Linked DNA regions of Homo sapiens: region 2 is linked to region 1. The links come from fine-mapping of genetic effects on gene expression. Tissue or cell type: whole blood. Region 1 holds a variant in brackets; the other region holds the start of a gene. All regions are shown on one strand. Distances are from middle to middle.

Region 1 (15,107 bases):
GCTTTGTCTAAAGGACTTTATTTCATTTAGTGACAGTGAGATAATTTATTGCTGCAAAGAACTTATAGCCAAATATGTTCTATTTTGTCTGGTGAAACAGAATGGCAAGAGCTTTTTAGATACTTTGAGGTTTGGGAACAGCACCGTTGAGGGTGAGAAGTTGGTTTTGATGGACTTATTCCATGATGATGCTGGAGAAAGAGTGGATTGCGGTCACACTTGTAGGTACTGAGGCCCCTCGCTGGAGGCCACAGCCTGCGCTTTTCCCATTGCAGTGATACCGAACACGTGACTGTAGACGCTTCAGTGCCACCAAAGCGTTGTCTCTTTGGAGAAGTCCAGTTGTGGAACTGGAAGAGCAAGGAGGTTGAAAGGCCAGGAGCCTTTCCCACATGGACGTGGGGGGGCCCACGTGCCTTCTTATAGGACTGCTCCCTAAAGGGCAGAAATGTGTGTCTGTTGGGAGCAGGGTGTCCCATTGCAGAAGCTCTCCTAATGTGATGTCAGGAGCCTCCTCTCCCCAGGCAGGCGAAAGAGAGCGTGCAGGCTGCCCCGTGGCAGCACGTCATTAGAAGGGCTGGGAGTCATGGGCACCAAGGGAGCAGGGACCACCCTCTGCCCCTTGGTGTGAGATGAGAGAGATGGCACTTGGTCTGGCTGCTCTATGCAGCTTGATCAAAGAGATTCAGGATCAGTTTAGCCCACAAGGTCCCTGTTTGTTGGATACAAGTTATGTATCATCATGAACTCACCTTGTATTGACAGGAAAGTTATATTCAATTGGAGTTGAACTCTAGGTAAATGAGACCAGAAGCATCAGTTTCCGAAGAATAGATAAGGTCTGGGAAAGAAGACGGCAAGGGAAACTGAAAGCTTTATTTCCTGCTTTGTCTGAAAAACCCTGCCGCCTTCCTCTAGAGGAAATGATGTGGGAAAATAAGCAATAATTAACCATGTTATTATGCGGCAATAAATAATTACAAGAATTGCTGCTGTAAATAATATTTCTCTAAGTTGTTTAGAATATGGTGAGGATCTTGTGGATAAGTTAATGACTTTTGGATGGTTACTTTGGCTGGGCAGAAGTAAGACCTTGTTTGGGTCTTCAGAGTAAAAATTCAGGAAACATGGAGGTGGTTACTGAGCGAGCCTTAACCAGTTGGTGAGTCCCTTGTGAAGTATTCCTGGAAGACATAAGATCTTAGAAAATTTCAACTTGTAGGCTCCTGCCCAACGTTATCGAGTTTATTTGTGGCATCCAGCATCTTTGGTAAAATTGGCACATCATATAATTTCCCTGTTTCCCAGGCCAGTGCAGATGATAAATATTTAAAATATGGACTCTAATGAGTGCCTGCCCGAGCCAACCAAGACCCTTTTGCAGCCCTCTGACAGCAGAGGAACTTGATTTGGAAACAGATTGCAGGAGATGCGAGTGCAGAGTGGGGTGGGGAAGGGTGGTCTTTTTGAGGTAAGAACAGACTATTTTTCCCTTTCTCTTTCCATCTCTTTCTTTTGTATTCTGGGCCACTTCTTTTTCTCCTCTCCCCCGCGGTGCACCAGGCGGCAGGGTGGGGCGGGCGACCCACGTGGAGCGCCTTCCATGGGAGGCGCTTCCCTGCCCCCTGGTGGCCGGAGGAGGGATTTGTCATGAGGCTCCGCTCAGAGCGAACGACAGCTGGGGGTGCATTTTCTGGGCTATTTGAGCCATGGAGCTGGGCCCAAAACATTTACAAAAGTTTCTTTTCCCACCTTAATTTTCGCTTTGTGTTTTCCTTAAGTCCTTCCGGTTCCCGACCTTCAACACCTAAAAGTGATTCAGAATTGGTCAGCAAGTCCACGGAAAGGACAGGGCAGAAGAACCCAGAAATGCTTTGGCTGTGGGGAGAGCTGCCGCAGGCTGCTAAGGTGAGAGTCTCTTCAATTCTGCCACGGACCGAAGATTTCTAACTCAGCTTAAATTACATGGAATTAGTATCATAGCATAGCCAAGAAACACAGCTACCAGGAGCCAGAGGTAAACCAAAATATATTAAGGGTTAGCCTTGAATGTTGGAATTACTTTCTTCCACGTTACCAACATTATAGAGAGGTCTCATTGCTTTTGTAGATTTTAAACCTATGGGATTCCTCTTAGGATTTACTTTTTTTTTTTTTTCTTGAGACAGAGTCTCACTCTGTCACCCGGGCTGGAGGGCAATGGCTCTATCTTGGCTCACTGCAACCTCTGCCTCCCAGGTTCAAGCGATTCTCCTGCTTCAGCCTCCCGAGTAGCTGGGATTACAGGCGCATGCCACCACGCCCCACTAATTTTTGTATTTTTAGTAGAGACGGGGTTTCACCGTGTTGGCCAGGCTGGTCTTGAACTGCTGACCTCAAGTGACCCGCCTGCCTCTGCCTCCCAAAGTGCTGGGATTATAAGCGTGAGCTGCCGTGCCCAGCCAGGATCTACATTTTCTATCACAGCTAAATGCAAATTAAATTAAAGAAATACAACTTACACACAATCTTGCTGTCTTGAAACTGTAAACAAAAATAGCTTCCAGCTCTTGAGTCTGCTAGGTCATTGATGAGTGGAGCAAAGCCACAGGGAGAGAGTTGTGGACTCTTGGCCCATTGAAAAAGAAGCTGAGTTGTAAGAGCTGGAATCCACATGTTCTTGTGTCCCTCACACAGAGAGACATCTGGGAGAGCCCTGGGAGAGGGAAAGGCTAATAGAACAGAAATGAAAGATTTCAGCCTAATAGATAAACAAAGTCAGAAAACCTTAAGGTTTTGATTCATCAAGTAGTAAGTATTTCTGGGCCCTCATTGTTGGTGGGACCCTGAATTTGACCCTATGGAGATCTCCAAAATAAATAGAGAAGCAGCTGAGGGTAGCGGAGAGAATGAGGGCCTGGGAGGCAGCAGGTTATTCTGGGTTTGAGTCCTCACTGCACCGCTTGCTAAAAAGGTGACCTTGGGCAAATGAGTAGACTTCCCTGAACCTCAGTGTCTTCATCTGTAAAACTGTGAGAAAATGACAGAATTGTTGTGAGGTTAGAAGGGCTAATGTAGGTATGTGAAGTATCTGGCACCTGTAGGCCCTCTGAATATTTGCATTCTTTCTCCTTGGCTGTGGTACATGCACGCTGAGCCCCAGTTTCCCTATCTTGGATATGCAGTGGGTTTACATGTAGGTACATAACTGGTTCAGCAAATATGTTTCTAAAAACATGAAATGAACACAATCTTTTCTTTCAAGAAATTTTATTTGGTATGCTAATGTATTATAAGCATCTTGAATTATGTTATTATATCACAAGCTTTAAAAAATATTGTAAGGTCCTTAGAAGATGCTATAGCCTCTTGCATCCCCAATAAATGTTTGTAATATGAATGAATGAGTGAGTGAGTGAGTGAATGACTATTGAAAACATCCCTTATAAAGAGTCAAGATGGGCAGCTTTTTGGAGAGTAGTCTGTTGAGGCCAAAGTTGTGGATCCATTTCCTCTCTAGGTTATATTTAGATTTCATAGAAAATGCTGATTTACCTGTCCACAGCTATGGTGCTGACCCAGCCAACTCTCTTTGCAAGTTTATGTCGTTAGTTGCTGGAGAAACAGCATGGAAGTGCAAATCCATCACTTCTTCTGGCAAAATAGTTGTAACCACAGATTTTCTGTAGCATTGTTTTTATTTGCAATTGAAGCTGTTTGATCAGATAGAGAAGTGAATACTTTCTCCCCTCTTTTTAGCCCATGAATTGCATTTTGGTTTTTGTTTGAATAAATCTTTTCTGTAACTGGAAATCCCTCTGGCGGTAGAATCAGAAATGCTAATTTCTCACTCATGTGAACCAACTGTCACCAAATCTTTACTTATTCACTCATGTTTTGGGAATAAACTTTATTGAAATATACATACAGAGAAATACACACATTGTAAATGTATAGCTCAATACATTTTCACAGCAGGAACAGATCTGTGCAGCGTGCACCCAGACCGAGAAGCAGAGCATGACCAGCAGCATGGAAACCCCCACTCTTTGCGGTCACTGCTCAGACTGACCCCTCTGCTCCCTGCAAGGGGAAACTTGATCTTAGCAACAGAGATTAGTTTTGCAAGATTCATTCATGTTGTTGGTGTAGCTGTAATTCATTTATTCTCATGGCCACTGAGAATCCCAGTGTGTGTGAAAAGACTTGTAATCTAACAGCATTTAGGGTGCTCCTGCCTGTTGGCATTGCTAATCTCACTTCTCTTTGGCAGTTGATGTTTCACAGGAAAGTTCATTTGCTTTGGACCTAATATTCTTGGTTTCTGGACTTTTTGGCAGGTATAGAAATCACCAGGTGATTGTTGAGGCTTAAAAGTCCCTGCCTACTTTTGATTACTTGTTCTCCTTGGGTCACTCAGTTTTTCTGGTTGCCTTTGTGCTGACCTTGTCTCTCTCTCTGTCCCTCTCTCCTCTTTGCTCTAGTCTTCTTCTCCACACAAGATGAAAGAGTCCAGCCCATTGAGCAGTAGAAAAATTTGTGATAAAAGTCACTTTCAGGCCATTCACAGCGAATCTTCAGACACTTTTAGTGACCAATCGCCAACTCTGGTCGGTGGGGCACTTTTGGACCAGAACAAGCCTCAGACAGAAATGCAGTTTGTGAATGAAGAAGACCTGGAGACCTTAGGAGCAGCAGCGCCACTCTTGCCCATGATCGAGGAGCTCAAACCCCCCTCTGCCAGTGTAGTCCAGACAGCAAACAAGACGGATTCTCCTTCCAGGAAAAGAGGTACCAAGGCTGGGGCTTCCCGGCTCTTTTTCTGTTCATAGTTTGTGCTCACTCTACACATGACAGGTCCTTTCCAAAGTTCCAAGGAAACTGAGGTAGAAACTGAACCGTGACAATGATCATGTTCAGTCTGAGCTCTTCAGCAGAATATATTAATTATCGGAATTTAGTCATAGGAAATCAGACATGAAGAAGGCCTTGAGGATCATGTAGCAAACTTCATTTTACACACTGAGGCTGCTCGCTGAGACCTGGGAGAGTTAAGTCCTTTC[C/T]AGCACACCATGGGACCCATAAGTGTGACTTTTATAAAGCTGATTATTAGGTTAATCCTGGCCACCTCTCTCCTTGCCCTGCGTTGCTTTCCAGCCCCTTACCCACTGTAATTTCTGCATATCATTTATCATGATTTCAAATGATCATTATTTTATTGATTTATTTTTGCCTGACTCCCCCATAGAATATGTGCTGTCTGAGATCAAGAGTCTTTTCTATCTAACTTGCCTTTCTCTCCTCGGCGCTTGGCATAGTGGTTGGCACACAGTGGGCGCTCTGTGTTGGTTTAATGCACTCCTGGCTGTGTGTTAGTATCAACGATGCCAGGCCTGATCTCCATCCACCCAGCAGCTTCGTGTGGTTTTCTAGAATTATATGGACCAATTACATCATTTTCTGCTAGAAGTAAAGAGGACATTTGAAGTCATCATGGCCAGTGTCTGACAATGCACAGTGTGGGATGCTTTGCCTCGGGGTATTGATGGGGAAGTGCCTAATAAAAGCTTTTATCATTTCATAATAAGTGTAATAATAATGGTAATAGCCTCAATGCGTTTAGTGCTCAGTACACTTCAGGCACTTTACAGAGGAGGAATGAGGCTCAGCAAGTTAACTAACTTGATCCAGGCCACACGATGGTGGATGACGGCCCTGGTTTGTGGACCTTGGTGGTCTACGGTCACGTTGTACTGCCCACCATTTTCCAATGGGAAAAGCGCAGGCTGTGGCCTCCAGCGAGGGGCCTCGGTACCTACAAGTGTGACCTCAATCCACTCTTTCTCCAGCAACATCATGGAATAAGTCCATCAAAACCACCTCACCCTCAACGGTACTGTGCCCAAACCTCAAAGTATTTGTCTAAAAAGCTCTTGCCATTCTGTTTTACCAGACAAAATAGAACACACTTGGAACTGTTGTGGTTCTTGGGCAGTTTGAGTACCTGGGAGCAAATCTGCACATAGTGTTTAAATGCTGTTTCTATAGATACAAGGCCATGAGCTCATTTCTAGAAGAGTGGTTTTCTGACTTGAGCCATTTGCCGTTTTAGATAAACGAAGCCGACATCTTGGTGCTGACGGCGTCTACTTGGATGACCTCACAGACATGGATCCTGAAGTGGCGGCCCTGTATTTTCCCAAAAAGTAAAATTCCTGTTAATTCCTCACATCATTTCCTATAATCTGAATATCATTCTGTGTGAGACCAGTTTCCCCTTATGTTTGATTAGAAAGTGTGCAAGACAGCTGGGCGCGGTGGCTCACGCCTGTAATCCCAGCACTTTGGGAGGCTGAGGTGGGCGGATCACTTGAGGTCAGGAGTTCAAGACCACCCTGGCCAACATGGTGAATCCTCGTTCTACTGAAAATACCAAAATTGGCTGCACGTGCTGGCATGCACCTGTAATCCCAGCTACTCGGGAGGCTGAGGCAGGAGAATTGCTTGAATCCAGGAGGCGGAGGTTGCATTGAGCTGAGATCATGCCACTGCACACCAGCCTGGGCCACAGAGTGAGACTCCATCTCAAAAAAAAAAAAAAAAAAAAAGTGTGAGAGAGAGGCAGTGGGAGGCTCCCATTGCCTTGTGAAATGCGCCTGCTCTATGGACATAAGGGTGCGGGTACTGGGCGGCGCCCCACCTCTGGACAGGGGCGCAGCACCGGGCTGCCCTCCCTGCAAAGCCTGAGGTCATGTTGTCCACAGTGGTCGTGGTCCACAGCCCAGTAAGTGGCAGCTGTGCAGCCCTTTTTTCCCCCAGGAGGGTCTCCCGTGATCCTGGGGACCCACCCTCAGTCCCCCTGCGATCTAGGGCAGGGCTGGCGCCTGGAGGGGAAGGGCAGGGAACAGGGAGGACAGCTTGCTTCTTCTTCAGTATATTTTAGGGGGATACAGGGAGATGCAGCCAGCTGAGAAGTAATGGTTTTCTCTCCTAAGCTAAGGCGTTTAATGTCTCTTTCCTTGTCGTGGTGCTTTAATAAACATCTGTGCTGAGATGCAGCCGTCTGCGGCTCTGAGGGTGGCCGCGTGCCAGAGCATCACTGGATGGTGATGTAGGACCCTGAACTGGGACAGTCCTCAGCCGGTCTCTGCCGCTTTTCCTCCTTCCAGCGGAGATCCTTCCGGACTCGCAAAACATGCAAGCGACAACGGAGCCCGGTCAGCCAACCAGTCCCCGCAGTCGGTGGGCAGCTCGGGCGTGGACAGTGGCGTGGAGAGCACCTCGGACGGGCTGAGGGACCTCCCTTCCATCGCCATCTCCCTCTGCGGGGGCCTCAGCGACCACCGGGAGATCACGAAAGGTACCGCGGGCCTCGCGCGGGCGCCCTCTGGTGGCCGCCGGTCAGAAGGCGCAGAGGCTTAGGCTTCTCCAAGGAGTGCGTGTCAAGGCAGCTTTTCCCTTGGTTGCGGTTAATGATAGCACAGATGATAGCACCGAACTCATAATCCCGATGTTTCTGGCTTGCAGTTAGTCGGCCTCAGAGTTCTGTGGGTCACCCATGGCTCGGGCCATCGTTGTGTGTCTCCTGTGCCCCAGGCTAGCACTGCAGAGATGGCCTCCAGAGGCCTGCAGGCTAGAGGGGGTGTCAGTCTAATTAAATTAGAGGGTGTCGGCAGCGAGAGAGAAGTGCGCCGGCGCCTTGGAACAGGGAGGTCTGAGTTTGTCGGAGGAGGGCTGGGAACTTTTCCCAGCTGGATTCAAAGGGCGTTAATCGGGTGGGCTTAGGTGATTCATTCACAGCACCTGCCACATTCGTAGCAATGCACTCCCAGGGCCTCCTGACAGTTCCATGGCAGGGTGTGCCCACGCCCCCCAGTGGGTGCAGTCAGCAGTTATCAGCTGGGGACTAGACACAGTGGCCCTGCACCCCTCCCGCCCCCTCTCTCACCACTGCCTCTTTTCCATCCCCTCGTGGTATTTCTAGCAGGGAAGGGGCCGAGGCTGTGTACTTCTTCCCTCTACCTCTCAGGAGCCACCCCCATCTCCCCTTCCAACCAGGGCTGCCATGTGAGACTCCTGCCTCCACCCTGGTCCCTTCAAGGCTTTGGGAATTTTTTCTTCCGCAAAGATTGAGACCTTTTTGTTCTCACGCCCGTGCCAGCCAGTCCCTTGAGAGCGGAAACAAGATTGTGTGCTGGGTCCCGCCGGCTCCATTCATTCACTCAGTTTTCCTAGGGCCACACATTAATACCCAGCCTCACTGTGTTTCTGAAGTCATGGGGGCTCTCTGGACACTGGCGTGAGGAGTCCCCTGGGCGTTCCCTCCCTGATATACATGAGCTGGTGGGGGTGGGGTGGCAGCACTGACAAGGCTGGGCACCGTTATCTGAGTGTTATCTCATGGGGCCAGGATCTGCAGCTGTCCAGTCCTTACAGGTGAGGCCAGATCGTCACAGTCAGGAGACCCCAGGAGAGTCCCCGGAGGTCCTGATTAGGGCTCTGAGGGTGCATGTTGAAGCCAGTCAGGCTGGCATCAAGACCCAGGGACTCTTTTCCTGGACGGAGGAGATTCTCAGTGTCTGATGTCTGCTGGGTTTCGGTTCGGTTCAGGGTAAATAGGAGCTCCCAGGGAAGGAGTGGGCGTGGCTCTGGGCCAGGGAGATGGTCAGAACCGCGGTCAAGGCTTAAGGTACAGCCCAGCTGCCAGAGCCCGTCAAAGAACTGAGGGTCCGGGGCTGAGGTCTGGGCCTCCTGACCCTGCCACCTTCTCCTTTGCTCTGATCCTGGTGGGGCTGCCCCACCATGATGAGAACAGTGCCCTGCCTGCTTCTGATTGTGGTGGAGGCAGCCCCATTTTTGAAAGGGCCCTGTGCTTTCTATTTACGACATTATCAGTCCCCATGACCACCCTAGGAAGCAGATGTGGTTATTATCCCCATGCTAGAGGAGGGAACTGGGGCCTGGGAGGTGAACCGCTTGCCCAGGGTTACCCCCGTAATCGTGACTTCAGCCGAGGGAGCCTGGCTTCTGCGCCATGCGTAGCCATGACTCTGCCTGTGCAGATGCACGTGTGTGCTGTTTTCACCCCTACTCCCTGTGTGAACGTATGTGCCTCAACTAAGGTACACGTCCCCCAACATCCTCAGCCTTGCCCTGGCCTCCCTGCATTGCTGCACAGACGCCGCCTTCCAGGTAAAATGGTGCGGCCTTTACAAATACATTTTATAGGATTGTCTGCACAGTTGGAATGCACAAACTCTCAGAAAACACTTGTGAGTGAGCAAATGAAAGGTAGGCCTAATTTTGAACTGAATTTTCTTTTTGTTTTTCCCTGATCCTCTGCAATTGCTGTCACAGATGCATTCCTGGAGCAAGCTGTGTCATATCAACAGTTTGTGGACAACCCCGCTATTATCGATGACCCCAATCTCGTGGTAAAGATTGGGAGTAAGTAAGTACCTCTTGAAAGTCACTTTGGCAGTAGCATGATACTGTTTCTGTTTCATGTTTTCAAATAGACCTAGACATTAAGCCTTAGAAATATATAAAATAAAGACTTTGCTACATTGCATTATTGCATTATCTTCACTGTGGTCAGGGTTCCATGCCAATAGAATTGGCAATATAGCTGATAGGTTCAGATAGCTCTCAGTCTTGTGAGTTTTCTTTTCTTTTCTTTTTCTTTTTTTTTTTTTTTTTTTTGCGACAAGGTGTAGCTCTGTCTCCCAGGCTGGAGTGCAGTGGTGCAGTTGTAGCTCACTGTAGCCTTGAACTTGTGGGCTTAAGAGATCTTCCCACCTCCGCCTCGCAAAGTGCTGGGATTTCAGGTGTGAGCCACTACACCCAGCTCGATGTTCTTATTGAATGTGAATAGTCACACTCTGCAGTACATGGGTATGTCAGAGTAGCCTACATCTCTACCCTTTTGAAAAACTTCATTATCGGCTGGGCGCAGTGGCTGGCGCCTGTAAACTCAGCACTTTGGGAGGCCAAGGCAGGCGGATCATGAGGTCAGGAGATCGAGACCATCCTGGCTAACACGGTGAAACCCCGTCTCTACTAAAGATACAAAAAATTAGCTGGGCGCGGTGGCGGGCGCCTGTAGTTCCAGCTACTCGGGAGGATGAGGCAGGAGAATGGCGTGAACCTGGGAGTCGGAAGTTGCAGTGAGCCAAGATAGCGCCACTGCAGTCTGGCCTGGGTGAAAGAGCAAGACTCTGTCTCAAAAAAAAAAAAAAAGAAAAGAAAAACTTCATTATCTGAGGGCAAGGGATGTACAGGTATTTTTGCAGACTGTTAGCAAGCTTTTCTCCCTTAAGCCATGGATGTTTTACACCTAGTTGCCTTTACCTTGACACGTGGCAAGAAATACCCCAAGCACGTCGTGGTTTGGTGCAGCAGCTGTACGGTGGGATTTGGGCTGCTGGCATGTCCAACTGTCTGCCCTGCTGGCACGGCTGCTGCTGGGCCCTCAACTGGCCGCTGGGGTGAGGTGGGGGGAGCCTCTGCCTAGGGGTGATATGGAGGAGGGCTGGGGGCTAGCAAGAGTATTGAGCTCTTTAAGGGCCTCGCTGGAGTCCCGAGCTTTCCTTGACTACTTTATATGACATTGGAAAGGTTTTCAGTCTGAGCCTCGGTTTTTTGACATATATTTCATTGTTTTGTGTTAGATATTATAACTGGACAACAGCAGCACCCCTCCTCCTGGCAATGCAGGCCTTCCAGAAACCTTTGCCAAAGGTGAGCTTTAACATGAGAAAGAAAAGGGGATGCTAGAAATGATGGGTAGCTTAATCTGGGGTGGTTGGAATTTCACTTTTATTTTGGAAACTACAGAGTTAATTCCACTGTGCTCTTTTGAAGTTCATGAGCATACAGGCCAGGAGTTTCTGATCTCTCTCTTGCACCTTGCACGTGGTTGCCCCTCTTCCTTATCAAGGCAAAACCTCCCAATCATGGTCGAGCGGACCGAAGATTCCTTTCTCAATATCTGCCATGCAAGGGGTACAGGTGGAGGCTGAGCAGACAGGTGCCAGGACCTCAGAGCCCAGTGAGGACAAAGGGAGATGATTGTCACCCTGGAAAGGTGGAGCAGGCATCAGGGTCAGGTGCAGGTGCCCTGTGTCAAGTGTCAAGTGTCAGTGTCAAGTGCTGCTCAGCCAGGAAGCCAGCCCCATGCCTGAGTCTCTGAGGCCAGAGCCAGTACAGGGCCTGGACAGCTCCCAGTCTGCAGGGGAGAGTAGGTAAGTGGCCGTAGGGAGGAGTTAGGAGGGCAGCCACGCCACCTGCCAGTCTGCAGTGTTCTCATCCTACCCCAAACAATTCACTAGACAGTCAGCCTGGAGTTGTTAATTTTTTCAATGATAGATCTTCCTGCTAGATTATACGTTCTTTGCTGCAGAGACTGCCTTAGGCTTGTTTGTATCCTTTGTGCGCTTAGCAAGCTTTTGTATGGCTTAGGATGTTGCCGTCGGTCAGCCAGTTCAAACACTTGAGATTCTTGAAGGTCTAATTGGACTTTGTTGAGTCTAGGCTTGCTGCTTCCTGGGTTTGTGTGTGTGTGTGTGTGTGCCTGTGCCTGTGTGTCAGTGTGTGCTCATGTGCATGTGTGCATACGTGCATGTGTATGCATTTGCATGCGTGTGTGTGCGCATGTATGTGTGTGCATGCGGGTATGTGTGCATGCTTGTGCAGGTGTGTGCCTTATGTGTGTGCGTGTGTGTATGTGCATGTGTATATGTGTGGATGTGCACGTGTGTGCATGTGTGGATGTGCACGTGTGTGCGCGTGTGCATGTATGTGTGGATGTGCACATGTGTGCGTGCATGTGTGGATGTGGATGTGCACGTGTGTGTGTGCGTGTGTGTGTGTGCATGTGTTGTGTTTTGAGGACCGCAGTCTCATCCTGGGTGGTGCTTTATCTGATTATCTTTGTGGACTGGGCTGAGGGCATGTTCTCCAGAGTGGTTTTTATTTTGTCCCTGCCATGGTATCCATGGCCTGGGACACATTTTTATGTCACCGTTCTCAACACTTACAAATCCGTAAGAAAAAAGGCCATTGCAATAGCAATATAGCTAAAGGATTTATTTATTCACTGAAGAAGAAATCCACATGGGCTCTGAAACTTAAAAGACATTAGTCCTTGTGATATGCATGCTAAATCTTTCTACAAGTCAGTAACTTTTGACTATATATGGCATTTCTCTAATATAGAAATTATTTTTAAATGTAGAATTTGCCCATCTTATCTTTTATGGCTGTTGGGTTTTGTATCACACATAAAATGGCCCTGCTTCCCCATTTCCAAAACTTGTGAAGATAGGCCCTATATTTTCTTTTTGTGCTTTCTTGTATATGGGGCATATTTTTACAAGTTTTGGAAATTTCGAAAGATCTTAAAATCTTTCATCCATCTAGATTTTGTTTCAAGTGTAATGAGAGGTATTAGGAAGCAAACCAGTTTTTTTCTCAGGAAGTTATTGAATTGGTGAAGATGATTTTTGTTTTAGGAAACAGAATGACTAAAAGTGGCTTAAGTAATGATCTCATATGATGAGGATCTTAGAGGTTGGCAGTTTCAGGCTTGATGAATTTGGGTTAGCTTCTTTGTGATTTTCTCAGCTTTTCCTTGATGGTCACAAGGTGACTGCCGTACACATCGTCTGCTCAGACTGCCGCATCTGAAACGGGAGGGTAGGGGCAGCTCTCTCATAGTTCAAGACTTGGTCACATGATCACCACTAAAGCACTTCTTGGCAAAGCAATGAAATGACTGTGAACGGCTTCGACCATTGAGGTGCATCCTCTGGAGTTGAGCCAGTCTTCTCCGCATGCATTGCAGCCTGATTCTTGAACAGAGTTTCAGATCTGTCAGCAAGAAAGGGGAGGCAGATGAGCTGCTCACAGGGTCTGACATGGCTACTGAATTATCCCAGGACCGTGTATTAACTAACCCTATCCTCCACTCAGAGGCAGTTACAACTTCACCCTCTGTTACGTGTCTCTGTGAATTTAGATTTATTTCTGGACTTCGTTTTCTGTTCCTGTGATATGTGTCCTTGTATACCAACACTGCATTCTTTTAGTTACCATATATTTTGGTATATTTTAATACCCAGTAGTGCTTGTTCTACTTACTACTCTTCTGCCTGAGAATTTTCTGGGCTATTTTTGTTTGTTTTTCAAATGAACATTAGAATCAGTTTGTGAAGGACTGAAAATACTCCTGTTTGTTTTTTTCCTTTCTTTGGCCTGCTTTCTTTTTTTAAAAAAAATGTGGTTTTGTTACATTTATGAGTGGATTTAGGGGAAATAGGGTCATTCACAGCTTTGTCAATTGTCCTATTTATGAGCTGGATGTGAGTGGTTTGCATTTTAGTGCAGTTGGGTTTTCTTTTGTGTCAGATAGGGATCTTTTAAGCTACATAGTAAATTACTTATCTGTCTGCTTCCCTTAGACTGAATCTTTCAGCTTAAATCTTTCTTTTGTTACTAGCTGAGGTGTCAGCTTCTTGAAAGTTCTGTAAACTGAGGAAGGGACATTACCTAACTTTTACCTTGGTCCTGGAATTAACCTCAAGATAGATAGGTATTTTGTTCTTTGGAAAAACGTAGAAAATTATCAATTCATATTTAATCTCCCCATTAAACCCATTTACCTAAAAGTATGAATTTTCTTTTTAATACTCGAGATTTTAAATCAAATGTACCTATTAATGCAAATGTTTAGAAATTTACCCTTAGTAAAAATCTTATGCATTTTACCTTTTGTTGAAAACTGTTTTATCCTCTATCCCATATTAATCATTTCATATTTTATTTGATAATCATCATATTGAGAGTAATGATATCTTAACCAGTTAGCCACTTTAATTTGAAAACTTCCAGTCTTACTAATCACTAATGATTTCTAATGCTTTCTTTTTTTGTTGTTGTTGTTGTGTTGTATTTTATTTGTTGTTTGTTTATTCCTTTAACATCTTCTTAAGTCTTCATGCTTAAGTTACCTTCATGTAATTTTGGACGCCATTAGGTTTTGCTTCTCTAAAATTTTTAACGCACAAATAGTATGTTGTGTTTTCTCTGATTTTTTTTTAAATCTTACTTTAATTTGCATGTATGTTTCTTTTGGTTTGAATGTGCTAAGTTGATCTTTTTTTGTTCCATTATTTATGTTACCATCCATTTAAAACAGGCCACTGTGGAATCTATCATGAGGGATAAAATGCCCAAAAAGGGAGGAAGATGGTGGTTTTCATGGAGGGGAAGAAACACCACAATCAAGGAGGTAAGCCCAGAAGACAAAGCAGTGCTCACACTTAGCAAGTGTTGGTTTTGTGTAGTGAGATTGGTTTTCATGTACTTACATCAGAGAAATGAAGATAGGCCCTAGTGCTGAGTTTCCATGAGCCAGCTCTGCCATGAAGTAGGGCGAGTGCTCGTGGAACGTGGGGAAGGTGGGGAGGAAGGTCAGGAGCCAGCAGCATAGGTGTCACCTCCTGGCTCTGTAACTGTTGGGAGACTGTGGTCCAGTCACTCCCTCATGGTAAGATTTCGTCATCTATAAAAGAAGGGATTCAGCCTGGGAATTCAGTTTCTTAAGAAATTAAATATCTTCCTTCTGCTTGTGGAGACAATTTTTCTTTTTCTTTTTCTCCCCTCCCCTCCCCTCCTTTCTTTTTTGGAGACGGGCTTGCTCAGTCACCCAGGCTGGAGTGCAGTGGTGCAATCTCAGCTCCCTGCAACCTCTGCCTCCCGGGCTCAAGCAATCCTCCCATCTCAGCCTCTAGAATAGCTGGGATTACAGCCATGCACCACCACGCACAGCTAAGTTTTGTATTTTTAGTGGAGACGGGGTTTTGCCATGTTGCCCAGGCTGGTCTCAAACTCCTGGGCTCAAGCGATCTGCCTGCCTAGGCCTCCGAAAGTGTTGGCATTACAGGCGTGAGCCACCATGCCCAGGCTGTGAGGACAATTTTAATGAGGCATACTCACAGCAGTTGACTAATTCTCTGAGTCCTTTCACTGAAATGGCATGTCTAAAGGTCCATGGCTTTGGCGTTCATGTCTATGAGTGCCTGTGATTTCTTTCAGATCTTCGTTGCCCTCTCCTCTATTTCTTGAAG
Region 2 (15,107 bases), 40 kb before region 1:
GCTGGAGAGGATGTGGAGAAATAGGAACACTTTTACACTGTTGGTGGGTGTGTAAATTAGTTCAACCATTGTGGAAGACAGTGTAGCGATTCCTAAAGGATCTAGAACCAGAAATACCATTTGACCCAGCAATCCCATTACTGGGTATATACCCAAAGGATTATAAATCATTCTACTATAAAGACACATGCATATGTATGTTTATTGCAGCACTATTTACAATAGCAAAGACTTGGAACCAACCCAAATGCCCATCAATGATGGACTGGATAAAGAAAAAGTGGCACATATACACCATGGAATACTATGCAGCCATAAAAAAGATGAGGTCATGTCCTTTGTAGGGGCATGGATGAAGCTGGAAGCCATCATTCTCAGCAAACTAACACAGGAACGGAAAACCAAACACCGCATGTTCTCACTCATAAGTGGGAGTTGAATAATGAGAACACATGGACACAGGGAGGGGAACATCACACACTGGGGCCTGTTGGGGAGTGGGGGGCTAGGGGAGGGATAGCATTAGGAGAAACACCTAATGTAGATGATGAGTTGATGGGTGCAGCAAATCACCATGGCATGTGTATACCTATATAACAAACCCGCACGTTCTGCACATGTATCCCACAACTTAAGGTATAATTAAAAAAAAAAAAAAAGAAGAAGAAGAGGGGAGGGTGTCAGTCTCCCCTCTGCTACATGGCCGCTGACTCATTTTCAGGAGCCAGCACCGCTGCTGGGGAGTCCCACTTCTGGTCCTGATGGAATAACAGGGAGCAGGTTTACCCTCCTGTCTTAAAAACAGCCGGAAAGCTGGACAAGTATGTGAAACAACAGTTAGTGGACACTGGACAATAGGCAGAACAGGACAGGGATTCCTGGGAGAGGGGAAGCAATAAGAGCAGCCTCACAAGTGTCCACCTCAGCAGTGCCAGGAGAGGGAGCCCAAACAGAGCCTGAGGGCCTGCCCAGCTCAGGAGATGGAGTGTGGGCTTCCGGGAGGCCAAGGGAGCTAGAATTTGCAGGGCAGAGATCTGCAGAAGAAGGAGCCACAGAGAATGGTTCAGAGATCTGCAAGGAGTGCCTTGAGTCTTCAGCTGAGTACTGGTCTGCACATGAATGTGAGGAAACCACCAAGGAAGGAGCTTGCAGGCAGAACGATCTCCAGAAATCACTCAGGCCTGGGGATATTGTGTGTCTGTGAGAGCAGCTTAGAAATAGATCCCTAAATTATCTGATAGTCTTCCTTTCAAAAAGAGGCGCCTACACCTACCTCCCTTGAATGTGGGCTGGGCTTACTAATATGTTTCTAAAGGACAGAATGTGGTGAAAGTGACGATGATGGTTTGTGACTTTAGAGACTAGGGTGTAGAAAGCCTTGTGGCTCCTGCTTGCTCTCTCTTGGGTCAGCCCCTCTGGGGGAAAGCCAGAAGCTGTATTGCTCAATCAGCCTCCGGACAGGTCCATGAGGCAAGAAATGGAGCCCCTGGCTACAGCCATGTGAGTCACCGTCCTGGAGGCAGATCCTTTGGCCCCAGTCAGAGGGCTCCAATCCAGCCATCACCTTGACTGCGACCTCACGAGAGAGCTTGAGTTAGAGCCACCAGCTGGGCCACTCCTGGATTCCTGACACAAGAAACTGCAGGGAATAAATACCTGTTGATTCAAGCTGCTAAGTTTTGAGGTAAATTTTATGCAACAAAAACTACATTTCCATCAGCCAGACTGGGAAGACCCCCTAAAATTCAGGACATCGAGGAGAAAAGTAGAAGAGAATTGCCTCAAAGAGGTGACAAATTAGTCCTAAAACAAAGGCTGTTCTGGATCTGCCGTAACAATGTTGAACATCAAGGCTCAAAAAGATCAAACTAATCGTAAGTAACTTTACTGCATCTCAGAACAAAGCACAACACTGTTTAAAGGAATATAATAAAATCTAGCCACCAACAGTACAAAACTGACAATGTCCCGTGTCCAAACAAAAATACTGGGCTTGCAAAGAAGCAGGATAATATGACCTAGGATCTGGAGAAAAATCAATCAATATAAACAGATCCAGAAATGACATTCATGATAGAATTAGATGAGGGTGTTAAAACGGCTACTATTTATATAACCATATGCGAATGACATTCAATGTAAACCCTTTGTATCAGGATTCTCCAGAGAAACAACCAAATAAGATAGATAGAGATATAGATAAATGAGAGGGGATTTAATTTGGAAATTGGCTCACATGATTATGGAGGCTGAGAAGTCCTATGATTTGCTGTCTACAAGCTAGAGAACCAGGGAAGCTGGTGACATAGCTCAGTCTGAGTGCAAAGGCCTGAGAACCTGAGGGGCCATCGGTGCAGGTCCTGGAGTCCGACGGCTGGAGACCCTGGAGTGCTGATGTCCAAGCGCGGGAGAAGGAGGGTGTCCCAGCTTCAGAAAAGGGAGTGAATTTGCCTTTCCTCAGCCCTTTTGTTCTATTGAGGAATTCAACTGATTGGATGGAGCCCAGCCCACACAGGTGAGGATGAATCTTCCTTCCTCACTCAGTTCACTGATCCAAATGCCAACCTCTACCAGAAACACACTCAAAGACATCCCCAGAGACAATGCTGTACCAGCTATCTGGGTATCCCTTAACCCAGTCAAGTTGACACCAAAAATTAACCATCACACCCTTCAATTATAACTTCCCCGCACTTTGCGAGGTCGAAGCAGGCAGATCATTTGAGCTCAGGAGTTCCAGACAAGCCTAAGCAACATGGCGAAACCCTGTCTCTATAAAAAAAAATACAAAAATTAGCTGGGTGTGGTGGGACTCATCTGTAATCCCAGCTACTTGGGAGGCTGTGGCAGGAGGATTGCTTGAACCTGGTAGGTGGAGGTTGCAGTGAGCCAAGATCACCCCACTGCACTCCAGCCTGGGTGACACAGTGAGGCTCTATCTCGAAAAAAAAAAAAAAAAAAAGGAAGAAAGAAAGAAAAGAAAAGAAAGAAAGAAAGAAAGAAAGAAAAGATCTTCTTATCAATTGATATGGGGTTAAATAATTGGGGGATAAAAAATTTGAAGCCATCTTCCCAGAGATGACAATAAACAGAAATAAACAAGTGAAAACCCAGAAGATCTGTGGCTGCTAATCAGAGGAAGCAGGTCTGAACAGGGAACCACTTAGCTGTAGATACCAAGCAGTGTCCAACAGGTTGCTTAGCAGAGGCATAAAATCATGACTTTTCTCAGGCACTTCTCATAAATTTCTTCCCAGAGCAATCAGAGATGCTGCATCCAGTTTACTTATTCACAATTTGGGCACGAAAGAGATCTTCCTCAAGCCACGGAGAAGACAGGCTTGACAAGGAGCAGGACGGCCTTCACAGCAGCACAAATGGGAGGCCCTGTGAAATTCTCCCTGGAAGGCAGAGCTAAGAGATGTCAGCCCTGAGGCTTAGCATCCCCATAGAGGGACTGACCAGGAGCCCGGGAGTCCTGCCCCAGCTGTGTCCCTAAGTTGCTGGGTTAACCTCTGTAGAATGTGAGGATGGCCTGGTCATTTTCATTCTCGAGAGACACTGGAGAGAAAAAGAACATTTTGTGAATGATGTCGTGTGTCCACAGGTAACTCTGAAGCGTGAGCTGCCAGAATTCAAGGCCACCTGCTTAACAGAAGACAACTAGAAACCTCATCCATGAGCAGAGTAAGCACTGCTGTTCAGTAGTTCTATTACTGTTAAGGTGTTATGACCATTAGATAAATAATATTGTTTGGCAACTGCAAGGAAAAGAACTGCGTAAATTGGTTCCAAACATTGCCACTCGAGCTCAGGAGTTTGAGACCAGCCTGGGCAACATGGCGAAACCCTGTCTCTATAAAAAAATACACATCCTGGCTAACACAGTGAAACCCTGTCTCTACTAAAAATACAAAAAATGAGCCGGGCAAGGTGGCGGGTGCCTGTAGTCCCAGCTAGTCAGGAGGCTGAGGCAAGAGAATGATGTGAACCTGGGATGCGGAGCTTGCAGTAAGCCGAGATCGTGCCACTGCACTCCAGCTGGGCGACAGAGTGAGACTCCATCTCAAAAACAAAACCAAACCAAACAAAACAAAAATTAGCTGGGTGAGGATGTTGCCCAGGCTGGTCTCGAACTCCTGAACTCCTGAGTTCATTCGTCAGTGATAAGTCCATGCAATCACTGAGTGGTAAGAGCTTGAACTGGTAAAGTGATTTGATATTTTATTGGTTATCTGGATCCCAATATATCTCATTTAATTTCCTCCCAAAGCTGCTGAGATGGGGATGGTTACCTCTGTTTAACAGCTGAGGACGCTGAGGTTCAGACAGCACTCAGCCACGTGGCTGAGCTGGACTTGAATTTGAGCCTGTTGGATTCTGAACCCTAGACTTCGTGCACCTGACCAGGTTGCCTATTATTAATGAGAAGATCTACAGTCATGTGCCGCATACCAATGTTCTGGTCAACTACAGACTGCGTATACGATGGTGCTCCCATCAGATTCTAATACCGTATTTTTACTATACCTCTTCTATGTTTAGATAAGTTTAGACACACATACTGACCCATTGTTTGCCTCTCTGGGCCTCAGTTTTCCTATCTAAGGAAGGGGGGACTCTTAAGGGTTTTCTACTTCTGAGCTCTCCTTAGCATTCTGTCTGTGTAGCTGTTTTCTTAGCACTGGAGAATGTGAGACTTGAGATGTGCTGCTTAAGGCTGTGACAGCCCCACACTTGTTTAGCAAGGTCATGGGTCATGGCGACTCAGAGGACTGACTCATGGTGATATGCGGGGTCTTTTTGTTCCTCCTGGAATTAGAGCCCACTGTAACAGTCCACACTTCCCAGCATAGCAGCCACTGTTTCTAAGTAATGGAGTTCTCTCCTCCCATCCCTGGTCATGTTGAGGTCTCTTTCCCTGTCCGCTCCTCGCACCTTGGTCTCTTTCTTCTTTCCTGCCTCTCTGCTGTTCTGTGTCTTAGCCCCGCTCATTATGAATTGTTCCCAATCTGACCAGAGGAGAAAGGGCGTTCCAGACCCCCTCTGGCTTCATCCAGTGGGAGACAGGCATGGGGCTTGCTGTGAGCTCCCGAGCTCCCCCGCCCACCAGCGGCCAGCCACGGCCTTCTTTCAAGCACCTGTGCGTGCCTGACTGCTGTGCATGTGCTGCTGGCTGGCCCGTGGTTCATTCTGCTCCTTGACACCTGGCCTAGATTTGCCTAGGTCGGTGCCTGCTTAGGCCACCAAGGTCAGGTGAATCCTCTTGCTTGGGGACAGGGCAGGTCAAATCCTGCATCAGTGCACGGCCCTTCAGTTCACAGCGGCCTGAAGCACTGTGACAGTTTTTACGCGATCACAACCCAGACTGTGCACTCCCTGAGGACAGACACTGTGTCTGGTCTGCTCCCCTTTGTAGCCCCCAGTGCTCAGCCTAGGGCCTCCAAGATGCTCCTGTGTGTCCAGCTGTCAGCCTTTATCACTCTGCCACTTCCTGTGCCTCAACTCTAATCTGCAGGCCCTGCCCTAACTGTGAAGTGGGCCTCTGGATAGCCCGGGTGACCGTCAAAACCTTCTGTGCTTTGGTTCCAGCTGTTTGCTCTCCGAGGATCACTGTCCTCTCCCTGCGGAACCCAGAACCTTTTACACCTGCCTCTTCCCCATGAAACTTCCCTGCTCAGCCAGCCACAGCACCCAGGGGGCCCCATTCCACCTTGGGTGGATTCCCAGGCTGCTCTGTTCCCTGCCACCAAGGTAGTGAAGCGGCACCAGGTGGCCCCTGGTTCCCACCTGGTTCTTAAGAGAGTGCGCAGGACAAAGTCACCTCGTGAGGGGCCCCCAACCAAGGAGTGGCCTTAGACCCCGAGGAGATGCCCTCCCTTCCCCGGAGCCCCAGGCACTGGTGCCAGGGATAAAAGTCTGCACCTCTAGGGGAAGAATTCATTGTCCTCTCTTTGGGATCCTTTCTGCCCGGGCAGTTACAGAGCTAACCATGCTCAGAGTCCTGGGGGATCAGCCAGTGTTTCTCCTTCCTACAGTAGCTCGCAGGGCACCCGTGAAGAGGGATGCTCATTCTTCCCGCCTACCTTGCCCCAGGTATTCTGGGCCTGTGTAGGTGGTTGATCTGGACAACTTCAGAGTTCTCGGGATACAACAGCTACTGTCACCAGCTGGGCTCAGCAGTGAACAGATCCTTCTGGGAATGGCCACTCCTCAACTTATGGGGTTTTAGAATTGAAAAATCTTCCAACCCCACAACTGTGACAGCAGCTTCCCATGATGCCTTTTTCATCCTCAAAGCAGATCTGTGTCATGTGCACCTGCAGCCCATTTCCTGGATTGTGAAACTGAGCCTCTAGAATCAGGATGCTTGTGCTGGCTTTGCTAAGGCATTACTCAGCCCCTCCTTCCTCCTCCAGTCAGCTAGAGCAAGATTACTCATCCCTGGAGTTCCTTCTCCTCTTCCGAGTGCAGCTAGGTCCTGGGATTGGCCAGGGGGATCGCCTCAGCTCTCCTGGCTGAGTCACTGCTCAGTCAGGCCTGGTTGCTGATAGCACAGCCAAGGGCCCTCCCAGGGGGACTCCAGCCAGTGCCTGATCAAAAGCGCCAGGGCTTTGGAAAGTCCGGTTTCGTTTATCGCCTGGGAGTGCACTGTGATCTAGTGAGTGTTTTCTTCTCATTGCTTGTTTATACAAAAGGCTCCCCCCAACCCTTGGCCTTCCCCGAGGTGGTAGGCTGGGCAGCAGCGGGACCTAATTTGCTCTGAATCCAGCCAGACCCTGCTCATCAGAGCTGACCCTAGCCGTGCTGGGCCCCCCAGCTCATCATTTTCAGAATGAGGGCTTTGAGTTGAATTGTCCTATATTTTCAGACCTCCCATCTCCACATTTGAATAATGGACTTATTTTACACAAAAAATAAACTTAAGTGGCCTGAAGTTGGACTGGCTTCCTGGAAAGCCTTTCCACATAGAGTAGACTTCTTCCCAGGCCAGCTCCTCCCTGGAGGTGGGAGGGGAGGGTGCAGGAGGGCTTCCTTCTGGGGCCTTGCAACCTCAGCAGTTTTGGGCAGCCGTGATGCACTTGAAACTCTGGTCTCTGAGAAAACCCCTGTGGAGGTAGCTCACCTACAAACTGCAAGATTCTCTTTGTGTAGCTCCCACGTCTGCAATGTCAGCATGGGACAGGCTGCCTAGATAGGAGCTGCCCCAAGCCCAGCGGGAGCGTGTCCACACTTGACCAGATGGACGGGAGCCGCGCCCCTGGACAAAGCTCTCCAAGCAGCTGTCCCCAAACATCTATCTCAAGCTTGCTGGCTTATCCAATTCACTAAGCTGCCGCATTCGATGCTGTTTCTAAGCTGGCCTCCTCCCTGGCCCTCTGCATCTCAGCAGAGCAGCGGTTCCATCTCCACACTGAGACTTGCCTTTGAGTATCGCATCACACACCTCCACCGGTTCCATTCATCAGTAAGCCTGTGGGTTTTGCCTCCAAATCTCTCTGAAGTCCTTCCGCTTCTTGCTGAGTAGCCCCTGTAATCTGAGCCACCATCATGTCCCCCGGTTTCCTGCAGTGCCACCTGTCTGCTGGCTTCTACTCCTGCAGTCCATTTTCCATGGAGTGGAGGGGTGACTTTTTAAAGAAGTAAATTAGATCATATAATTCCCAGGTTTAAAATTCTTTTTGGACCAGGCGTGGTGGTTCACACCTGTAATCTCAGCACTTTGGGAAGCCAAGGTGGGAAGACTGCTTGAGCCCAGCAGTTTGAGACCAGCCTGGGCAACATAGGGAGACCTGGTCTCTACAAATAGTTTGAAAAATTAGCTGGGCGTGGTGGCATGCACCTGTGGTCCCAGCTACTTGAGAGGCTGAGGCAGGAGGATTGCCTGAGGCCAGAAGGTGAAGGCTGCAGTGAACCGAGATTGTGCCACTGCACTGTAGCTTGGGTGACAGAGTGGGACCCTGTCTCAAAAAGAATTGGTTTGGAATAACATTTAAATAATACCTAAACTCCTTGCCTTGGCCTACAAGACCTGAATATTTGGCCCCTGCCTTCCCTCCAGCCCACAGCACCGGCCCCAGGACCTTTGCACCTGCCATTTCTGCTCTCCAGAAAGCCCTGCCTCCTCCCCATCTTTGTAGTCATAGGTGTTTCTTGTCATTTAGAGTTTCAGTTCAAATATGACACCCTCCCATTGATGGAAATCATTTCACCACCAGACGTTATGTGGCTCATTGTTTATCCGCTGCCTGCCTCCCGGCTGGAGAGGCGCAGGGAGCTGCCTGTCCCTCCTGTTCAGAGCCACCGTTCCGCACCTGGACCACCGCTTGGCAGAGGCGGGAGTGGAGGCTGTCACCATCAGGATGAAGGACAGGGGTGGCCCGGCGTGGAGAAGCTAAGAAGAGATGGCGATAGGTCAACGCGATTGCGCCTTTAAGGTGGAAGAAACGAAGGGCGAGGGTCAGTAAAGTCAAGGACGGGCTCAGATCCCGCCACTGGTGATAAGCGGGACCCATAGGACCGACGTGATCGCGGCCAGGCCCTGGGTGGTTTACCTGGACTTTTACCTGGCTGCCTTTTCTCTGCACCCCTCCGTCCTCACTCCCCCAGTCATCGGCATAGGTCAAGTCAGAGTGTTGAAGAAACACACGAGTTTGGCTCTGGAAAGGAAAATCAGAAAGGCGGCCTAAGGGGCCCCACCCCCAGGAACGCTAAGATAGGCGGCCAGGGGTGAGCGGGCAGGGCCGGCCAGCAGGCCCTGAAAGCAGCCGGGCCACCAGCGCGTCCCGAGTCCCCCTCGCACCGCCCCGCTTGCCCCGCCCCTGCCCTCTGCCCCCGCCCCTGCCCCGCCCCCGAAGGCGAGCTGCGCTGACAGCCGGCGGCGGGCTGGGTGTTTGCAATACAAAGGCGGCCACGCGCGGCGCCGCTCGGTGAGTAGCCGCCGCCTCCAGCCTCCCGCTGTGGAGCAGGGGCCGCAGCCTCGGGTTAGGCGGGGCGGGGCGCGGCGCCGGGGCGCTGAGGACGCGTGGCGAGGCGGGGGCTCGGCCCCGGGGCCCGAGGACCGACGGCCGGGCTACGTCCCCGGGGCCCTCTACGGGAAGTGGTTCGGGGGAGGGAGGCGGGGAAACAGGCCCCGGAGGCCGGGAGGGCCTCGCGAGCATCCCTCGGGCCTGGCTTTCCTGACGCGCCGCGAGGCCCGGTGTGGGCCCGGCTTGGCTGATCTCGAGCGGCGTAGGGGCCACTGGGGGCTGCCGCGCAGTCCCAGAACCGCGGGGACTAGCTCCAGCCGGCCAGCGCGGGTGCGTCCTGGCTCTGCGCGATCATCCCCAGCTTTGCGCCGGGGACTGGGATGAGAGCCTTTCTTTCCCCCGGAGTTAGGATTCCAGCGCTGCAGTTGAGGAAACTGAGGCTCAGGGAGGTTGACCTCTGTGCCCAAGGTCATACAGTTGCCGGGCGGCAGGGCAGGCTGAGCCCAGGTTGGAATCCCGGTTCTCATATTACAGCTCTCCCCTGCGAGGCCTCTGCACCTTTCTTGCAGCCTAGGAGGTGCTAGGCCTAGTGAGCTCCGTCAGCTGCTCCTGCACGTAATTTTATTATGGGCAAGGCCAGGAAAATGCAGGATGAGAAGTAACGTTTTGGGAGTAACTTAAGTGCTGTGGAGCTAGAGTAGGTAATTTGTGTGGTCAGTAGTTGCTGGAGAAAGCAGATGTCAACCCTGTTTTTGATCAGCAAGCAGGAAACCAACTAAGACAACTGGCAGTATTAATTTGGAGATGTTTTAGAACCCGGCAGTTTCCCACAGGATAGAAGTGTTTTGGGAAATCAAAGCTTGTAGCCGTTTTTTTAATTGGGGGTGTTGTGGTATGGTGGTCTAGGGGTAGTGATTGTGAGATTGACTGTTTATCCTTTGTTCCGTAATTTGGGTCTTATTAATGAAAGTAAGCAGTTGAGGAATGTATAGTATTTGAGAAATAAGCACATCCACACATGAACACTTTTCTTGCTCCCAGATTCTTGTTGAAAGGTGTAACAGTTGGATTTATGATTATATACTTTGATAGCACTTCACGTTTGCCAGCATTTGTTATTGAGTGTTTTTGTGCATGGGTTGTGTGTTTTGGCGCTTATTATTCCTATTTGCATGTGGGGCCCTGTGGTCCTGTGGAGCCAGGCCTGGATATAGCCCTGGACTCGGGTCGGGAGGTCTGGGCTCTGCCTGAGCTCTGTGGGACCCTGAGCGAGTTCTTTCACCCACCCAGGTCTCGCTTATCAGCAGTTCCTTTCTTTTAGAAAAGCACAGGGGGACAAGGGGCGGACCTGCTGAGTCTTGTGGTGTGGGAGAGAACGCGAGGGTTCAGGTGAGAGACCGCAGGGATTCCTGGTTGTAGGGGGGACCTTGGAAGTGACTGAGAAGGAGCCTGCCCTGGATTAGGTGGGGACAATTGGCCTGGCCCAGCCAGAAGGAAGTCTGTGGGTCCTGCTCTCCTGCTCTTTGCGTGGTCAGCTGCACAAAGGGCCCAGAACAGACGGCAGGGGAGGGTCAGGAGATGAAAAGATATTTCAGAAGAAGGTCCTGAGGCCACCGTGGTCTGAGATGCGCCGAGGCCGGCACAGAGCACTGGGCTTTGCAGTTGTTGTTCTGACCACTCACAGATGTAGAACTTGGGCAGAAGACTTCAATCCTCTGAGCCTCAGTTTTCCCATCTGTAAAATGAAGGGATAATCATACCCATTCACAGGATTGTTGCAAAAATTAATTGAGATAAAAAAGAGCCCCTGGAACATAATATGGGGTCCACGAATCATTGTGGTTGTTATGATTTTAAAGTGCCACAGGGTGCCAGCGAGGAGGGGCTCTTTGTGGGGTTGGGACAGTCCTGGCTGACGCCGGCCTCTGCTCTGTAAATCATCCCTGTGGGACACCCCCTCCCCCTGCCTGCCACCTCTCTTCCGGTTGGCTTTTCCGGACCATCTGTGTACTGGGTTCAAGGCCTAAAAGGTACCTAAATGAGGTTAATTGATTTGGGCAAGCCTGCCAATGGGGGTAGTCGAGGGGTACAGGCAGCTTTTTCCTTAGGGTGGGAGGGGGCTGTTGCACGGATGTCGGCAGCTTTTGGAGCATTTTGAGAGACATCCAGGTGTTAGGTCCCGCCAGGACACCGAGGCTGGTGGTTCGACCTGTTTGCACTTGCACTTCCTCACTGGTAGCCCGGGCGTGGGATCTTGGAGCTTTTGAGGGGTCCTGAGGAGGAAGTCCCTGGAATCACCCACTAGCAGCTTTGGGGCTTGTTCCTTGAGAAGGGCAAAGTCACAATTTTGACACTTTATTGAACCCTGGACCAATGTATTGTATAATAAGCCCACTCATTTAAAACTGGAACGGGGTGTGTGGGGAAAAAAGAGTTGGGACAAAACCCAAGCAAAGCCGTTCAGTGACGTCACAGGTTCTTCATTCAGAAGAGGCCCAGGTGCCTATCGGATGGCTGTTTCTGAAATGTTCGCTTTCTGAGCTGTGAGGGAGGGTCTGGAGAGAGAGAGGGGCCCATGCCTGTGTGTCGAGGGGACACACCCACACTGGCCCTGCTCCTTGATCAGAGGATGCACCAGCGCCTGAAGGGAATCTGTGCCCCCTAGGAGGCCACACTGGGCCCTGGGGCTGCTGGGGTCCGAAGCAAGTGCCCTGACCTCCCTTCCTGTGGGTTCCCTTCCTCTTCCTCTTTCCACAGCTTTCCCCTGTCTGTCTCCCTACCTGTAATTCACCCCAACAAGCCCTTAGCAGCTGGGGTTGGGGTGGGGTCTGTGCAGCCAGGGATATGTTGAGTAGTGAGTTTCTGCCTGTAGAAAGCTCTGGGTCTGGGCTGACCCAGACCCAGGCTGACACTTTTCACAATGAGGTATGTGGCCCAGGAGTCTTAAAACCTCAGCAGTGTCTGGCCCACAGGCTGTTCTGCACACTGAGGGATGCAGGGCGCGTTGTGCCGCTCCCACTCCCAGCTGAGAGGTTGGGAGGAACCAGATGGACTGGGCTCCATCAGGAGAGAAGCCAGAAGCATTTTCACACCGGTGGTCATGGCTACAGGGTCATGGTTACAGTGGATTTTTCAACCCACTGACCAAATGTTGTGATTCTTGCAACAACTTAAAATTTTCGGCTGATGCTGAATGCTGGGGCTTTCCAGAAATAGCCATAGGCTGTTAGAACAGGCACTTTGCTCTGTAAGGAGGCCTGTTTGTTCCTGAGTGTGAGCTGATTTGCATTGGCTCACAAAGTTGACCACAGACCCTGCATGGGAGACACAACCAACACCCCCATTTGCCTGCTGGCACGCACTTGTGCCCCCCTCCCCTCCCCGGCCTCGCTCCCTGGAAGCCCTCGCACCTCTCCCCTTGCCCTCTGTCCCCTAGCCACACACACTCACTTTTTGATGAAGTCGTCCTCCGCGTTCATGGATCTCACTAGGCTGTAGGTCTTCAGTTTACAAGACAGGAGACAAGCAACAAGGGTTTTAGGATAATGGGCACCAGACAAGACAGGCGCCCAGACAACTGTTCTGGCAAAACAATGTCCCACCATTGGACTCTGTGCAATGCCAGAATGCCACCAGTCTCGGGGTGGCCTCTTTGGGCTCAGATTTTGGGCAAATGAGAATGTGGAATGTAGGCATAGCCTTCAAATAGTTCTGTATTCATTTTAACTAGTAATATTCTTTGCCTCTGTCTTTTTGGGAAGGTACTATTTAAATAGGTGATATATACAAAGTCCCCTCTGGCAAGAGACGTTATTCAAAGACCGGATTTTGTCTGGAACCAGTTTGTGGTCACAGAATTAGCACGTGGTTTTTATTTGGTGCATGTGCTTTGAAAAGTACTTTACATTTACTGCCTCACAACAGTCCTATGAGGTGGCTGTGCTGATGTCATCCCTTTTTATAAAATAGATGCGAAACTGCAGTGCAGAGAGCTTAGTAACCTGTCTTTGATCACAGAGTTAGTGGAAGGTGGAGGCAGGATTTGAATACCTCCAGAGCCTGCGCTCTTACCTGCTGAGCTATATTGTCTCCTAATAGTGCCCTGGAACACCCAGGTGATATATGCCCACCTCCCAATTGCTGGGGTGTGGTAGGGGTGGGGGGTAATACAGAAATAAAGTTATAAGGGCAGAGCATTCTTTTTGACCAAGACACGAATTTGGACAGAGGGCTCTTGAAAGTGCGTAGAGAGAATGTGCCATTGGGTCTTTGAAGGAAAAGAACGTCCTGTCCTTAATCAGTGAGCTAAATAATTAAGAGCCAAAGGATCGGAGTCAAAGCCTTGGGCTGTTTTGCTCAGCATAGTTGTCATACCATATTTAGATGTCTACACCCACCTTTATCCAGGCCATTTGTATTTCTTGGCAGGAACGTGAGAACAAGCGTCACCTGGGGTTGTGGTATCTGAGGGTTGCAAAGTGTCAGCGCTGGAGGAGCTGAGTGATCACTCATCTGACCTTCCCTCCAAAGCAGGAGTACCCCTGTCCAGCACCCTGTCCTGTCTCAGTGGTTTCAGTGATGGAGACCCTGAGACTGAGTGGACCAGAGTTTTCCATCCTTCACTCCCAGTTCTCTGAGGTTACTAATAATTGACATGAAATACATGCAGACATAAAAAACACAAGCTAGAAAGCAACACTATGGGAAGTATTTATGATAAAAAGTGAAGATCTCTTCCTCCTTTTCCCAGGCTGGTCCCCAGGGGTGAATCTTGTGAATCTTGTTTTGTATGTATCTCATTCCAGAATTTTTTTATGCATATCAAAATATGTACAAATGTAATTTTTTAAAAATGGGTCCAGCTGGGCGCGGTGGCTCACGCCTGTAATCCCAGCACTTTCGGAGGCCGAGATGGGTGGATTACGAGGTCAGGAGATCAAGACCATCCTGGCTAACATGGTGAAACCCCGTCTCTACTAAAAATACAAAAAAATTAGCCAGGCTGGTGGCAGGCGCCTGTAGTCCCAGCTACTCGGGAGGCTGAGGCAGGAGATTGGCGTGAACCTGGGAGGCGGAGCTTGCAGTGAGCCGAGATTGCGCCACTGCCCTCCAGCCTGAGTAACACAGCGAAACTCCGTCTCAAAACAAAACAAAACAAACAAACAAAAAACCACAATGGGTCCATATTATAAGTATTTTTGTACCTGTTTTCATTCTATATATACATTTTCATGTTAATATTTATGGAGCTACCTCTCTACCATTTTATTATCAGCCTCATAATATTCCATTTTACAATGTGGATGGCCCATAATTTATTAAGCCAGAGTCATACAGATATTAAGTTATTTCTGATTTTCCCTATTACAATTAATGCTACAGTTACTGTTTTTGTACACGGATCTTACTGTATTTGTACAATCAGTTCCCAGCGGTATAGTTGCTAGGGTTTGCCAATAGGTGCCCCAAAAGATGGGCATTGCCACATTGCTTACCCCATTTATGACCCTGTTAGTAGTGAGTGACGATGTCTGATTCTCCTACTTTTCATGGGCCCTGGGGTTTTAATGAAATGCTTTGATTTTGGACCATCTGAAAGGCCTCTTTCGATTCCTGTATCTTTAATTATGAATGGGGTTGAATATCTCTCTCATATATTATTGGCCAAATGTGAACTGTCTATATGTTTTGTCCATTTTTTCTTTTGAGCTGTTCCAAGGCCATTTTTTTTTTTTTTTTGAGACGGAGTCTCGCTCTGTCGCCCAGGCTGGAGTGCAGTGGCGGGATCTCGGCTCACTGCAAGCTCCGCCTCCCGGGTTCACGCCATTCTCCTGCCTCAGCCTCCCAAGTAGCTGGGACTACAGGCGCCCGCCACTACGCCCGGCTAATTTTTTGTATTTTTAGTAGAGACGGGGTTTCACCGTTTTAGCCGGGATGGTCTCGATCTCCTGACCTCGTGATCCGCCCGCCTCGGCCTCCCAAAGTGCTGGGATTACAGGCGTGAGCCACCGCGCCCGGCCTCCAAGGCCATTTTAAACTGACCTTAATCTTCTAGAGGTGGCTGGTGTTGGCAAAAATTGTGGGGTTAGGAAAGCTGTGGCAGGGGTTTTGAATTTTGGCAGTTCCAAGAAAGCAGCG

Evidence for each region.
Region 2: LPIN1 starts here. The variant in region 1 is fine-mapped to the expression of LPIN1 in whole blood (TOPMed, PIP above 0.99).

Annotation. Positions count from the first base shown.
Region 1 is chr2:11,777,738-11,792,844 of GRCh38, forward strand. It overlaps LPIN1 (lipin 1), which reads left to right. Exons shown (of 21, transcript NM_001349206.2): 7 at 1,782-1,908; 8 at 4,464-4,770; 9 at 6,092-6,185; 10 at 7,149-7,339; 11 at 9,337-9,430; 12 at 10,650-10,719; 13 at 14,177-14,269. Among named protein-coding and RNA genes, the nearest start is that of MIR548S, 18 kb to the left of the region's middle. RefSeq lists an enhancer at 1,191-2,390 and a silencer at 6,986-7,280. The variant C/T (reference allele first, on the strand shown) is at 5,043.
Region 2 is chr2:11,737,742-11,752,848 of GRCh38, forward strand. LPIN1 (lipin 1) reads left to right here and starts at 8,891. Exons shown (of 21, transcript NM_001349206.2): 1 at 8,891-8,930. It overlaps LOC124907735 (a long non-coding RNA gene), which reads right to left and starts at 7,718. Exons shown (of 2, transcript XR_007086220.1): 1 at 6,087-7,718; 2 at 2,195-3,561. RefSeq lists enhancers at 914-1,213, 7,058-7,631, 10,143-10,814, 11,587-11,846, 11,867-11,916 and silencers at 1,422-1,716, 8,570-9,139, 12,377-12,436.